Linked DNA regions of Homo sapiens: region 1 is linked to region 2. Evidence: fine-mapped expression QTL. Tissue or cell type: whole blood. Region 2 holds a variant in brackets; the other region holds the start of a gene. All regions are shown on one strand. Distances are between the middles of the regions.

What was found. PIP is the estimated chance that this variant, and not a neighbour inherited with it, causes the effect.
Region 1: it holds the start of ECI2, and the variant in region 2 is fine-mapped to the expression of ECI2 in whole blood (INTERVAL, PIP 0.92).

Annotation. Positions count from the first base shown.
Region 1 is chr6:4,131,771-4,139,957 of GRCh38, reverse strand. It overlaps ECI2 (enoyl-CoA delta isomerase 2), which reads left to right and starts at 4,383. Exons shown (of 10, transcript NM_206836.3): 1 at 4,383-4,447; 2 at 6,247-6,409. The coding sequence starts at 4,398. It overlaps ECI2-DT (ECI2 divergent transcript), which reads right to left and starts at 3,886. Exons shown (of 4, transcript NR_103764.1): 1 at 3,710-3,886; 2 at 2,556-2,597. RefSeq lists silencers at 3,828-4,037, 4,198-4,337.
Region 2 is chr6:4,106,698-4,114,884 of GRCh38, reverse strand. It overlaps the pseudogene TEX56P. Among named protein-coding and RNA genes, the nearest start is that of ECI2, 25 kb to the left of the region's middle. The variant A/G (reference allele first, on the strand shown) is at 4,151.

The DNA of each region.
Region 1 (8,187 bases), 25 kb before region 2:
TCTCTAAATTATAACGATGGGAAATAAGAAAAACACCCCAAAGCAGGTAATATTCCAGCATACTATTTTTAATATCTCTGACATATAAGATTGTGTAGGAAGGCAATACAAAGCCTAGCTAGGAAGAAGAAAAGAGGATTAATTTTGTAAAGGAGACATAATAATGCCACAGGTTTAATTTATCTCAAGCAATGTCATCCAGCTAAAGCAGGAAACAATTATGATACAGAACGTTGAACGTGGACTAATCATTTTAATGACTAATGGAAAAAGCTATAATAGATTTTTCACCCAGAAATTTATAGAGTTAAGTAACACCACAGTTGCCTTCGTACCACTCTCCCCAGTTCATTTCGGCACAGGAACTTGGCAACAGTCAAAGTCCTCTGCCTTTAGCTACCACTCACTGAAAAAGCAACATTTCAAACCACAAAAACACTCATGTTAACACCTTCTGACAACTTAATGAAAAGGTAGCAACTGACTCACAACTTATTATCAAATGTGGAAAAGCACGCTCTAGAAGGAAACTTTCAACAGCTCATCCATCATCCAACAAACCTTCACAGAGTACAGTATTTTCTGTCAAGCAGTGTGTCCAGAAATGAGAAAGGGGTTGAATACAGGGTAGAATTCTTCCCAGGATATGCCCCTTGTAATAAAATAGATTACTAATCAGATATAAAACACAGTGACATAGGGGCCAGAAGAAAGAAACGCCCAGGAGACTGTAGGAACTCAGGACAGGACTAACCAGTGGGTGGGTCAGAGGAGATTCCTGGATATGCCAATGCCTGGAATGAGAGAACCTGGAAACTCAGAGAAACTGAGCATCCCAAGTTCACCTGAAATGGGAAGTTAACATGTGGGGCTGGAAAGAGGTGCCTGAGAAGGTAGGCAAGGGCAAATCTTGTGGGCCTTATTTGCCAGTGCTAAGCAGCTTGGGTTTGTTTAACAGGCAAAGGGGACTCACTAAGAGATTTTCAGCCAAGGGGAGAGATCGGGGAGAATCGTGTGGAGTGTAAGATTTAAAATTTAGGGAGACCAGCCTGGAAGCAGGGAGAGAATGGATTGCAGAGGTAACTGAATTAGCAAAACTGGGAAGTGGCTGCTACAGGAATCCAGGTAACAGTAATCTCAAAATCAATGAGAGCATGAATTAAGACGATGCAGAGGGATGTGAGATGAGGGGGAAAATTAAAAAAATATATTTAGGAGACAGAATCACTAGTATTTGATGAATGATAGATGTGAGGTGTCAGTGAGGTAAGGGAATCAAAGACTCTTCCAGGTTTCTAGCTTGCACTGTTAATTGGGACAGTGTATCAGAATTGTTCCTCAAGACTGAATGTGACAGACTCTGTACATGCTGTAACAACAGTATCTGATGATGTAAATATTGGAAATAAAAATTATCATGACTGACAGAGTCATCATGTAACATTCTACTCTGATATAATCTATTCTATGATCTTAAAAAAGAAACATTCACACTACCACTGAGCACAACACTGTGAAGTCGATATGCTGACCCCAAAGATTCATTATAGCCGGAGACAACACTTCCTGTGCACCTGCTAAGAGAGTCTGAGATTCTCTCAACCCAAAGAACATCAACGGCCCTCCCAGGCAGCATCAGTCCCCTGCAATCAATAAGACAGGATCTAACCAGACTGGAGGACCCCCTCCCCAAGATTTTCATAAGCTCCAGGGGAAGCTGGTTATATAACAGGGTGAAGATTAGAGCTTTAGAGAGGTCTTGACTGAGTTTCTGCCTTTCCTACTCTTATCCAGAACCATTACACCCTGAAGATATATCTGGAGTCCAGGATTTCACTGAGAACTGGATAGCTGGGCATGCCAATTGTATCTTCAATGGCTCTCTGCTTGCTCTCAGCACGGAATCCAAACTCCTTAGCACAGATACAATGATCTTCAAGCTCAGGTGGAGAATCTACCAAAATCACAATGGTTCCCTTTTGCTGCAACTGGCCCTCCCACCCACAGGGCCATGGCAGCCATGTTTACAAGGCATGGTCTGGACACCTCTTAACAGTTTAGTAAACCAAATACGGACCCAAGATGACCCTCTTTAGGATCTAGGAATCTAAATGTCTGTCTCTTTAACCAGGAATGTCTGTCTCTTTAACCATCTCCTTTCTCTCAAATGCTGGATATAATGGGGCTTTAGTAAATGACAGCTGGTAGATATGCAAATGATTTCTCCAATAGGAAAAACATTCCTCCCGAGGTTATGGTTTTATTGCTCTATGGGATATTAACCAGTTTTGTTTCTAACTTTGCAATCTATTCCAGCATTCTTTTTTTAACATTGACTATATTAAACTAGTCTTTTAACTTCTTCTTTAGCACCCTGTTGGTTCCCTAATTAATGAGCTAAGTAAATCTTTGACACATGCTCTTTCTATATTTTTAAAATTATAGTTTGAAAAAGATAAGCTAATTTCCCACACCCCACTCTTTTCTGTGGTAGGTATAAGCCTGAGAGTAGTTTGCTTGCATTGCAAAAGGTTTCACTATCAAAATATGCTTACCAGTATGAGATTTAAAAAATATTTCCATGACAGCTGTTTCATCTTCTGGAAATGAATGAGTCTTGTATTATCTGCAATATCTGATTACTGCATTTCCATTACCTCTGAGGTTATCTAACAGCCTTGGAGAGAGTCAAGGTCTCTGAGAGAGGCAGCTCAGCCTACCAACTACCACTTTGTAATATATGGAGAGGCCAGGTGTGGTGGCTCACACCTGTAATCCCAACACTGGGAGGCCGAAGCGGGTGGATCACCTGAAATCAGGAGTTTGAGACCAGTCTGACCAACAAGGTGAAACCCCATCTCTACTAAATACAAAAAATTAGCCGGGCCTGGTGGCGCATGCTTGTAATCCCAGCTACTCGGGAGCCCGAGACAGGAGAATCACTTGAACCCAGGAGGTGGAGGTTGCAGTGAGCCGAGATTGTGCCAGTGCACTCCAGCCTACGCAACAAGACGGAAACTCCATCTCAAAAAAAAAAAAATCTCTTTGGGATAAGCCCAAATTGTTCTATTTGACTTTTGGTGTTGCCCCATCTACACTATTACCCAGATCTACCTGATGAAACTTAATGATAAAGTTACTTGAGACTTGGACTCTGCCCACCTGCAAGCCTCCTGTCTTTGGGGAATTCACCTGATTAATCTTTCTGGGTCTCAGTTTCCACATCAGCTCAACAGGGCAATATGCTCAACAGGGCAATTTCCACATCAGCTCAACAGGGCAATATCATTTTCCTTACAGGGTTGTCCAAAGACTTACAATTAGCCTGGCTCACTATAGGTAGTCCACAGGTGTCAGCTACATAAATCTAAAACTCCTAGGCATGCTTGGATGGGACAACTTGGGCACAGAATTTAGAGGGGTGGTTTTGTTTCGTTTTGTTCTGTTTTGTTTTTTGGTTCTCTGGGAACTGGACAAGGTGACACAGCCAAGGCCCTTCCAACTCTTAAGAATTCTTCCCCAAAGAAAATACTTTGCAAATGCCTCAGCAGAACTCAAAAATATCCACAAACTCTTCACTGACACTAAAAACTTGGGTACTCCAAAAATCACTTCTGACCCCCAGGCGTCCTACCAGGTCTGCAAACCTTCGATTTGGGGATGCATGACCTAGCAGCTTTTAAGCATACGCCCTCAATTGTTACCCCACCTCCCGGCTCAGGGCTGGCCCTCGGGATGCAGCGACCCCTCCTCGCCAGGCTCCGCGGGACTCCGGGCAGGGCGCTCAGTGCTCCGGCAGCCACAGGGTTCGCAGAGCTGAGGTCCGCCCGAGAGAGCAGCCGCGCCTCCAGCTCGCAGTTACTCGGAGCCAGGCCGGGGAGCATCTGTGCCCCGCCCCACGCGCCGCGCAAGTCCTCCCGGGATCACCCTCCCCGCGCCGCGAACCCCCCGCACTTCCTCCACTCCCGGGTGATACCCGGCCTCGCTCCGGCCCCGCCCCCGCATCTGAGCCCCGACTCCTAACCGCCTAGAGCTCCCGCCCCGCCCACGCACCGACCCCCCCGGCCCCACCCCCGAGCCCCCGCAGCCCCAGAGGAGGCCACGGGCTAGCGATGGCGAATGCGGCGTGGCTACGCTCTCAGCCTGGCCCCGCCCCAACCCTGGCCCCGCCCATGCCCCAGGCTCCTGCCTGGGCTCTGCTCTCGGCCCCGCCCCGCACCCAAGCCCCGGCCCCACCCCCGAGCCCCCGCAGCCCGGGAGCCTAGGCCCCGCCCCCGAGTCCCGGCTCCACCCCCGAGACCCGGCCCCACCCCCGAGCCCCCGCAGACCGAGCTAGGCCCCGCCCCCGAGACCCGGCCCCACCCCCGAGCCCCCGCAGCCCTAGAGCCGCCCAAGGGATGGCGATGGCGTACTTGGCTTGGAGACTGGCGCGGCGTTCGTGTCCGAGGTAAGCTTGGAGTCCCGGCCGTTCGGCCCATGGTCGCCCGCAGGATACCGCTGTCCAGGCGAAGGTCGCCGCCGTTGGAAGACCCTCCTTCCCTATTGTCTAGGTGGCAACAGGATTTTGCTTTGCTGGTTTTCCGGTGAGGTAGTGCTAAAAAGTGACGACCTCACGCGCGCCCTCCTGCACCGCTGGGCCCGGAGTGGTCAGGATGGGCGCGTCGGGAGGTCAGGGCTATGGTTCCCTGTCAGCAGTCCCCAAGGTCTCCGCCTGCCTCCGCGCACGCTCCCATCCTCCTGGGGCCGGACTCCGGGCGGGTGAGCCGCCCCAGCTGAGCACCCGGGCCTGCACTTCCCAGCCGGGCTGCTTCTGGGGTGCAAAGCGTCGCTTGCTAAAAGCGAGGTAAACGCAAGCCGTTATCACTCGTGTGGACTTAACACTCTGCTTCTTGGAGAACACGTATGCTATAAAGTGAAATGGCCGGGTACAGAGTAACGGCTAAGAAGCACGCTGCACCTCCCTGGGGTCCCGGGAACCCGCACGAATCTGTGCATAGGGAACAAAACCGAAACACGGTGGTGGCCTTGAAGTGGTAGAATTATGAGTGATTTTCCCGACTTTATGTATTTTCTTAAATGGTCGTGTTTTTGCTATTTGTTTTTAAAACTCACGCTTTATTTAAAAATAAATTTGTTCCACATTTTGTGGAAACTTGTACATTTCGGCTTTCTGTGGATATTTTAAATTTTTCTTTCGTTTTCTACGTGGAATTTGCCATATAAGATGCAGTTTTTCCCTTTACAGAAAATCATTTTAATGTAAAACTTACTCTAGGCTGATCTTACTGAATCAGTTACTAATAGTCCAAAGTTTGAACCTAGAGTTCATTGCACCATTTTCGAGTTACATAATTGTGTTTGTGTGTTAGGTTTGGGCTTTGTAACCTGTATTATTTTAATCATCTTTTTTGCCATTAACTCTATTATTCAGTGTCATCGTCGTGAACTCCATTTTTAGCTTGTGGCCTGAGTCCTGTGCATTCAAGTTTGCCACCCCACCCCCGCTCACTATGTGTGCTTAAAAACGTGCTGATCACCCCCGCGGTGGTTGCTGTTTCTGCTCTGTTCCTGGCTGGCTGGTTAAACATACCCATAGAAAGGGGCACGCCTGCTGAGCCCCCTTCACTGACTCCCTTCCACTGCAGGTAGATTCCCTCCCATCTGCTGAGAAGGCTGTGGCTCTATCTGGAATGCCAGCAACTGCTCGTGTGTTCTTTTGAATATTTCTTGTATGTTCACATCCATTCTCCCCTCCTTCCACCTGTGTGTATGTTGGAACACCAGCTTCGCCAGCAAAGAGGCAAGAATTGACCTGATATAGCTTATGGCTTATCAGTGAGTGCAGAGGCTGTTTCAGGACTTTGGGACACTTCACTAAATTCTGTGCACTTTAGCCTTTTGGTTTCCTGCTGTCCACTGTCTTGCATGCACTTCACTTCTTGCCTTTGGCAAAATTTACATGGTCATTCCTGTTCTGGCTGCTTTTATCTTTAGTTGCTTACAGATACCTCCCTGGATGGTTACTTTTCCTTTTATTTAAAGTTACTACTGTTAGCTTCTGTATTGACTTATTATCTTGGAATCCTTACAGCCAATTATTTGCAGCCAGTTTGCTGAGGCAAGTATAAAGAAAATATCTATAGACAAACATGGCATTTTGTTATGTATAGGCTGGGAACAATTAGAAATCAGGCTGCAGAAATGTGAGGGTTGGGAACAAATAGAAATCAGTCTGCCTAATTGTAGTTCTCTGCAGGTCACTAGTTTCCCGGTAGTTCAGCTGCACATGAATAGAACAGCAATGAGAGCCAGTCAGAAGGACTTTGAAAATTCAATGAATCAAGTGAAACTCTTGAAAAAGGATCCAGGAAACGAAGTGAAGCTAAAACTCTACGCGCTATATAAGCAGGTAAATGCCTACGGTCGAACGTTATTTAAAGAATTTTGGGCAAATGACTTCTTAAATAAATACACTGTGTGTTTACTAAAATGTGGCCTTAACATTTTGGTTTGTCTTGCTCCCTCTTCTCTGAAGAGTGTGTGTGTGTATATATATATATGCCAGTTTTTTATATTAGACCTTGAAATACTATTAAGGCACAAAGTGCCTCAGTGTCACACGAGTAAAAGAGACTTACGAGATATAATATTCACATTTGTAGACCTTACTTAGCTCTTGATTAGAATAAATCAACTGAAAAAGGTATTTTTAAGACAATTGGGGAAGTTTTGAGTAAGGACAGAGTGTTAGAAGATACCTAGAAATCATCGTTAATGGTGTCAAGGTTATATAAGAAAATGTTGATATTTTTAAGAAAAGTGTACTAAGGATATAGGGGTGAAATAGCATGGATAGTTGAAGTTCTCTAAGCACAAAAAGAAAAGGATAGATGAGGCCAGGCATGGTGGCTCACGCCTGTAATCCCAGCACTTTGGGAGGCTGAGGCGGGCAGATCCCTTAAGGTCAGGAGTTTGAGACCAGCCTGGCCAACATGGTGAAACCTCATCTCTACTAAAAACTCAAAAATGAGCTGGACTGGTGGCGCACACCTGTAATCCCAGCTACTTGGGAAGCTGAGGCAGGAGAATCGTTTGAACCTGTGAGGTGCAGGTTGCAATGAGCCAAGATTGCGCCACTGCACTCCAGCCTGAGTGACAGAGCGAGACTCTGTCCAAAAACGAAAGAAAATAAAGAGAGAGAGAGATGAAGCAAGTAAGGCAGTTTGATAATTGTTGAACCTGGATGATGGGTATTGGGAATTCATTATAGTATTCTACTTTGGTATGTTTGGAAATTTTTATAACAAAATTTAAAAACTAAAGCTCTTAAGTTTCAATGCCAAAGACTTCCCTGGCATGTCTGCCTCTCTGGGCTCCTGTGTTATCTATTTTTCTGTCCTATGATGGGTATGAGCTTCTCTTTCATATGGGTGTGTATAGTAAAAAATTTAACCTTGCCCCAGAAGAGGTGTGGCTTTGCCCTCAGCTTCTGGGAAGTGAATCTCTAATGACTGGTAGGAGTCTTTATTTGCCTGGATTGTCTTAACGATGTGATTTAGGGTGGGGGCTTCAGGTTATACAGTCATGCACAGGTGATGGAGCCCTGTTAAAAACTCTGGACACCGAGACTGGATGAGCTGAGCATCTCTGGTTGGCAGGACTCCCTGTGTACTGTCACATCAATTCTGGTAGAGGTGCCCTATGCTGACTCCATGGGGAAAGGACAATGGAAACTCCACATTTGCTACTGCCCCAGACTCCATCCTGTGTGTGTCCTCCCTTGGATGATTCTAATCTCTATCCTTTCCCTTAATAAACTATTAATTGTGCGTTTAACAGCTTGCAGTGAGTTCTGGGTGTCTTTCTAGCAAATTGTTGCACTTGAGGGTGGTCCTGGGTGCCCTCCAGCCTTGCAATTGGTGTTAGCATTGAGGACAGTCAGGAGACAAAGGCAAGCCCTTATCCTGTGGACTGTGTTCCCTCTAACTTCTAGGTTGGCCAACTCTTGCCAGATGACACTATCTCTGTCTAAAGAAATTCATAACCTCCTTTACTGCCTTTTTCTTTTTTCTTTTTTCTTTTGTTTTTATTTTGTTTTTTTGAGACAGAGTTTTGCTCTGTCACGCAGGGTAGAGTGCAGCGGCACCATCTCAGCTCACTGCAACCTCTGCCTCCCAGGTTCAGGCA
Region 2 (8,187 bases):
AACAATGCCAAAAATTAAAAATGAGGTAGGTCTGTTGCTACTACCCATTTTCAAGTAGGCATCCCGAGGCATGGAGATTAAACTAGCTTCTCCAGAGTCAAACTCCCAGTAAATGTCAAAATGAAGATAAAAATCTAGGCAGAGTTCTCATCCCACAATGGCAGCACAAGCCAACTACTGCCCATTCCTCCACAAATTACAACTAAAATCTCTAGAAGAAATACGAAAAAGAACTACTTGAGCATGCTGAAATTAATCAAAAGCAGGTGGATTGTTAAAGGGTGTCAAAATACAGAGAAGCAACTGCACAAGGATAAGTTTCCCAGATTATGAGAAATAAACACAATTGCTGGAATCTAACTCCGGAGCATGGTATTAGAAGTAAGGCAAAACTGCAGTTACTTTTGCACCAACCTAATACTTCTGCCTCAGAGGCACACCCCTATTGTGGGGTGGTGCTGCGGTGACCATGGAGTGGCCAGCCAAATAGAAGTTGAGGAAAACAAAAACACTTTGAAAAGGAAAAGGGCCCTCTGGGGGCTAAAGAGTGAAAGCAAGAAGAGACTCCCAGAGCCAAGAGAAAGAAGCTCTAATTCTGTGTATGAACCTAGATAAGTCTGATTCATAAGTGAGACAGACTCAAACCAGCATAGCAAAGGCTTTGCGAAGTGTACTGGGATTTTAACCACCACCCACAGAAGATCAAGACAGCTTGTAGTCTGAACCTAACCAGATTGATTTCTTGCTAAAACAAAAATGGCATTTTCCAGATGATTGTAACATGATCCACAAAAACATAACTTCCATCCAATGCCACAATATAGTAAATACAGTAAATATCCAGGATCCATATGACATAATATTGGATCCAACCATACAATAGAATATCTAAGGCCCTGAGAAGAAGCTGTCATATGGATCCAGGATCCATATGACATAATATTTACAAAATGATGTGACATAAAAAGAAACATGGAAATGTGAACACTTGGACAGAAGGAGCAGAGTGAAACTTGTTGCAACATCCTGGCCTGTCTGTGGGCTGCCTACAGAAATGGTGTCTGTAATGTCCAACTCAGGTATCAGACTGGAGACAGCAAATAGTTTTGATTTCAGGCTGGAAGCCACAGAAGGCAGTGGTGAGCAATGCAGCACATGAAAACTACACAGGGATTGCTGCCCTGTGGACCTCTGAGGGCAGGAGATTACAGAGGAATACAATAGAATATCTAAGGCCCTAAGAAAAAGCTGCAGTGAGACTGTTTAGGAAATGAAGACCTTTAAAATCACCTTTGATGGGGACAGGGAGCACACACACATTCACAGGAAGGAAGCATGCCTAGAAAAGACCTGAGAAGACCTGGACTAATCTCAGATTAGTGAAGACCTCATGGACTTACAAATTAGTGAGGTCTTACATGCCAGTCTGCAAAGACTGGGAGAGTGGCCATATTTTTTTTAAATACCCAATTTTCAAAAAAAGATCATAAGGCATGCAAAGAACCAGGGAAAGATGGCCCACTGAAATGAACAAAACACATCTCCAGAAACAGTTCTGGAAGAAACACAGGCATCAGGCTTACTAGACTTTAAAACAACTGTCAGCCAGGTGCGATGGCTCATGCCTATAATCCCAGCACTTTGGGAGGCCAAGGCAGTCAGATCACTTGAGGCCAGGAGTTGACACTAGCCTGGCCAACATAGTGAAACCCCATCTCTACTAAAAATACAAAAAAATTAGCAGAGCATGGTGCTGCACACCTGTAATCCCAGCTACTCAGAAGGCTGAGGCATGAGAATCACTGGAACCCAGGAGGCAGAGGTTGCAGTGAGCCAAGATCACATGACTGCGCTTCAGCCTGGGCAACAGAGTGAGAGTCTGTCTCAAAACAACAACAAAAAAAAACCACAAATGTCAAATATACTCGCAGAACTGTAGAAAAACATGAACAAAGAACAAAGGAAAGTCAAGAAAACATATGAACAAAATGAGAACATCAACAAAGAAATTATAAAAAAAAATATTGAGCTGAAAAGTACAATAACTAATTTGAAAATTTTATTAGAGGAGTTCAACAGCAAACTCAAATAAGTAGAAGAAAGAATAAGCAAATTTGAAAACAGCTCATTTGAAATTATTGAATTTGAGAAGCATACAGAAGAAAAAATAAAGTGAACAGAGGCTTAGGGACTTATGAGATGCCATCACACTGACCAATATATGCATAATGGGAGTCCCAGAAGGAGGTGAGAAAAATGAGGAGAGAGACTATTTGAATAAATAATAGCTGAAAACCTGCCAAATATGAGGAAAGACATGGATATACAAATCCAAGCTCAATGGTCTCCAAGTAGGACAAACCTGAAGAGACCCATACGAAGACACATAATCAAAGCTGACAAAAGTGCAAGATAAAGAGAATCTTGGAAGGCATCAAGAGAAAAGTGACTATATACAAGAGATCTGCGATAAGACTATCCGAGTATTATTTCAGCAAGAACCTTGGAGACTAGAGGCAGTGGGGTGATATATTTAAAGTGCTGAAAATTTTAAAAAAAACTGTCAACTGAGAGTTCTATACCTGGTAAAATGTTTCTTCAAAAATGAGGGAGAAATTAAGACATTCCCATAAAAACAAAAGCTGAGGGAATTTATTATTACTACACTTGCCCTACAAGAAATGTTAAAGGAAGTCCTCCAGTTTGAAATGAAATAATGCTAGATAGTAACTGGAAGACAGATGAAAATATAAAGTTCTCCAGTAAAGGTAAATATATGAACAAATATAAAAACAGTATTAATGTAATTTTGGTTTATAACTCCACTTTTGATTTTCTACAGGATTTAAGAGACAATTGCATAAAATAATTATGAATATATGTTAATGAATATATAATATTAAACCGTATAATTTGTGACATCAATAACATAAGGGGAGAAAAGCTTTAAGGAAGTAGAGTTTTTATATGCAATTGAAGTTAAGTTGGTATCAATTAAGATAGATCATCATAACTCTAGGATGTTATATGTAGTGCACATAGTAAACACCAAGAAAATATACGCAAGCAGAAGTGAGAATCAAAATATGCCATTACAACAACTTTAAACATGAAGGAAGGCAGTAATCAAGGAAATGAGGGAGAAAAAAACCTGTAAGGGACAGAGAAAACAACAAAATGGCAAAACTAATTGCTTTCTTTTCAGCAATTTATATGTAATTGGATTGAAAACATATCAAAAATCATAAGTTGGCAGAGTGGGTATAAAACCAGGATCAACTATATACTGTTTAAAAGAGTCTCACTTTAGATCTAAGGATATGAGTAGGGTGAAAGTGGAAGGATTAAAAAGATATTCCATGCCAATAGTAATAAAAAGAGAGCAGAAATGGCTATACTAATTGACAAAATAGACTTTAAGTCAAAAACTGTTAAAAGAGACAAAGACAGACATAATATAATGCTAAAAGTCTCAATTTACCAAGAAGATATGACAATTATAAACATATGCACTAAATATTAGAGCTCCAAAATATATGAAGCAAACATTGACAGAATTGAAGAATAAATGGCCCTACAATAATAGTAGAAAACTTCAATACCTCCACTTTCTTCAGTGGATAGAGAACCAGGTAGAAGATCATAGGGGAATATAGGACTTAAAAAACACTATAGACCCACTGGACCCAGCAGACACATACAGTACACTGCACTTAACAACAACAGAATATGTATTTTTTAAGTGCACATGGAGCATTTTCCATATGTTAAGCCATAGGACATCTTAATAGATTTAAAAATTGAAATACAAAATATCATTTCTCATCACAATGAAATGAAACTAGAAGTTAACAGCAAAAACCTGGACAATTCACAAGTATGTAGAAATTAACACACTTTTAAATAACCAATGGGTCAAGAAAAATCACAAAAAATTTAAAATATCTTGACACAAATGAAAACACGACAAACCAAAACTTATGGGAGGATCTGAAAGCAGTGCTAAGATGGAAATTTGCAGCTGCAAACACATTAAGAAAAAAGAAAGATTTTGAATAAACAGCCTAGATTTACACCATAAGAAACTAGAAAAAGAACAAACTAAATCCAAAACTAGCAGAAAGAAGGAAAAAATAAAGATTAAAGATAA[A/G]TAAATACTAGCAATGAAAATTCCAAAAAGGAAATTGAGAAAAACCATTCAATTTATAATAACATCAAAAATAACCAAATTTAGGAATGAGTTTATCCAATGAGGCATAATACTTAGTGAAAACTACAAAACATTACTGAAATAAATTACAGAAGACAAATAAATAAATGGGAAGACTTCACATGTTCACGGATTAAAAGACTTAGTATTATTGAGATATTAATACTACCCAAGGTGATTTGCAGATTTAATGTAATTCTATCAAGGTCCCAACAATGTGTTTGCAGATATGTAAAATGTATTCTAAAATGCATATGGAATCTTAAGGGACCCCAAATAGGCATAATTACCATACAATCCCACAATTCCACTTCTGGGTATGTCTTAGTCCATTTTTGTTGCTATGATAGAATACCATAAACTGAGTAATTTATAAAGAAAATATATTTATTTGGCTCATGGTTCTGGAGCCTGGGAATCCAAGATTGAGGGGCCACATGTGGTAAGGGTCTTCTTGCTGCATCATATCATGGCAAAGGCATAGCATGTCAAGGAACCACACAAGTGAAACAGAGAGAAAAAGGAGATTGACCTTCTGACATACTAACCCACTCCCACAGTAATGGCATTAATCCACTCATGAGAGCAGAACCCTCATGACCTAATCACACCTTAAAGGTCTCACCGTTCAATACATCACATGGCAATTAAATTTCTTTTTTTTTTTTTTTTTTGCCACGAAAAGATTGTTTTATTCCATGAAAATATTCTCAACAGAAAACACTACCTTTAAATGAAGGATTTACCATTAAGAAATCAACATGTGCACAAAAAGAGTACAAATTACCAAAAAATTAAAGATTTTTGGGGACATTTCACATGTTTAAAATTTAAGAATGATTTAAACTGTGCAAATACAGATGTCTTTCCTATTATAATAGCCCATATACAGGTTGCACTATTCCACGTCAAGGAACTTGCCTGCTACGGAAGCAAATCCTGCTTTTAGAAAAACAAACAGTGGCTTGAAAAGAACAGTTAGTCCTTACAAGAAAGTCTTAAACTTTGCCCTCTGTGGCTGTTAACCAAAAAACCATAAGCATTTCAGGCTTTGTACAGAAGACAAACACAGCCAGATCACATTTCCTCCTCATTGCTAACCTTTAAAATAAAAATAGCACTAGATTTTAAAACTACTTCATGTAGTCTGTCAGTACTGAATAACGTCACATTATATAAATAACCCTGTAATGAGATTCAGTATCTAAACTTTATAGTTTACTAGCTGCAAAGGTAATACAATATATGTCAGCTGTGTAACAGTGGTGACTTGATCTTATGAAGGCAGTAACTTTCACACAATTGTCATTCGGCTGTAGTAAAACTGGTAGTATGATTCAAATAACACTGGGAAAAAGTTATTAAAGCAGTCACACAGCTTCTAAAATATTGCTTAAAATTCAATAATACACAAACCATTTCACATTCTTTCTCCCCTCAAAACAGTAAAGAACCAAATTAATGAAGATTCAGTGGTACAAATAACACCCCACCTGCCCCATCTCCCTATTACAACACCACTAAGAACTTAGTTAAGATACAAGTCATTAACAGAATCACAAATGCGAGGCAGGACACCATGAGCAACAGGAGCACTAACAACAATATATTTACAAGTATAAACATACAGAAATTCCATTTTACAAGTAAAAGTGCACATAGATCATTACAAAGTTTCACTAAATTTTATCAGGTTCAAACAAAAGCATCACGTGGAAACATTATCACTGTAATTATCAAACGTGATCGTCATAACCCCAAATAAAAAGACAACTGGGGGAGGTCCATAAAACTTCCCATAAAAACACTGAGGAAATTAAAATGGACTTGGACATGTCTTTAGTTTGATGCATAAATCTGAAGATGCACCACTGTATATGGTAGAGCTCTAATAGCCACCTACCGAGGCTACGTCGGCAGCTGCAGCGGTGCTGCAGAGTTAAAGGAGATCGCACTGAGCTGACACATGAAGCCCTTGGTGGGATACTGTAGTGGTAGTGTTGGCAATCAACAGATTTTATTCACAAACAAAATCTGTTTTATTCACTTAAGAGCTAGACCGGGTGATTTATTTTGCAACTCTCTTTAAATCTATTTAAATAGATTATGTGCTATGTACTTATTTTCTTCCTTTAGGAAACCAAAGTTAAGAAAAGGGAAGAAAATGAAAATGATGTTATTATTTTACCAAGTTATCCAACTACTATTTTTCTTCCTGGAAACTGTAGCTACAAATTCAAACTTCTAGAAGAAACCACTCTTTGGGGAGTCGGCTTTCCATAGCATTTCAGAGCAGTTTCACTTATTCAAATCCACTAGAGTCACTGTGTTTTCTGAAGTAAAGGGGCAGACAGCATTACTATCCATGAATTCCTGTCCAATAAATTAAATTATGTTTGTAAGGCAGAAAAACACAAATCCTTCACACAGACTTAAGCAGGACATAAAGCAAAAGGCATCAATGAAGCTTCACACCAACGTTACTCAAACAGTAAAGTGACATGGCAATTAAATTTCAACATGAGTTTTGGAGAAGACCTTTAAACCATAGCAGAGTATATACCGCAAATAATTGACTAGCAGAGACTTGAACAGATATTTGCATACAAAGCATTATTCACAAGATAGAAAAGTAAAAACAACCCAAGTGTCCATCAACAGATGAATGGATCAACAAAATGTAGTCTATACATAGAATGAAATATTATCAGCCTTAAAAAAGAATAAAATTCTGATACATGCTACAACATGGATGAACCTTGAAGACATTATGCCAAGTGAAATAAGCCAGACACAAAAGGACAAATATTGTATGATTCAATAGGCAAATTCATAGAGTCAGAAAATAGAATAATGGTTACCAGGTGCTGAGAAGAAAAAGGGGTAGAAAATTAATGTTTAAAGGAGAGACAGTTTCATTATGGGATGATGAAAATGTTCTGGAGAAGGATAGTGACGATGGTTGCATAACAATGGGAATGTACTTAATGCCACTAACTTAATTACACTTAAGCACTTAAAATGGTAAATCTTATGTTATGCACATTTTACTATAAGAAATATTTTTAAAAAGCAATGCAATTCACCATATTAATAGAATAAACATATTATTAATAGATACAGAGAAAGCATTTGACAAAATTATACATTCATGTGTGATAAAAACAAACTAGAAACAGTAGGGAACTTCTCAAACTTATAAAAGGAATCTGCAGAAACCTAGAGTAAATAAAACACTGAATTGTTTTTTCTCTGAGATTGAGAAAAAAAATGAAAGATGTCTGCTTTTACCACATCTGTTCAACATTGTACTGAAAATCTTAGTCATTGCAATAAGGCAAAGAAAGGAAATAAAAGACAAAGAATGGAAAACAAGATGTAAAAATGTTTCTCTATTTGCAGATAATATGACTATTTACATTAAAAAAAATCCCAAGGAATTATATGATCCAGTAATGCCACTTCTGGGTATTTATCCAAAAGAATTGAAATCAAAATCTTGAAGAGACATTAACACCTCTATATTCATCGCAGCACCATTCACAATAGCCAAAGTATGGGAAAAATGTAAATCTTCATTGACAGAGAAGTGGATAAAGAAAATGTGGTATATACGTACAATGAAGTACTAGTCAGCCTTTTAAAAGACAGAAATTCTGTAATATGTGACAACGTAGATGCACCTTGAGGACATGCTAAGTGAAATAAGCCAGTCACAGAAATAATGCATGATTCCATTTATATGAGGCATCTAAAACAGTCAAATTCATAGAATCAAAGAGCGTAATGATGGTTACATCCCAGGGCGTTGTGGGAGGGGGAAATGGGAATTAATGATCAACAGGCTTAAAGTTTCAGGCAATCAAGATGAATCAGCTCTAAATACCTGCTTACAACACTGTTCACAATAATGTATTGCACGCTTAAAAATTGTTGAGAGGTTTGTTAAGACCTCATGTAAAGTGTTCTTATCACAA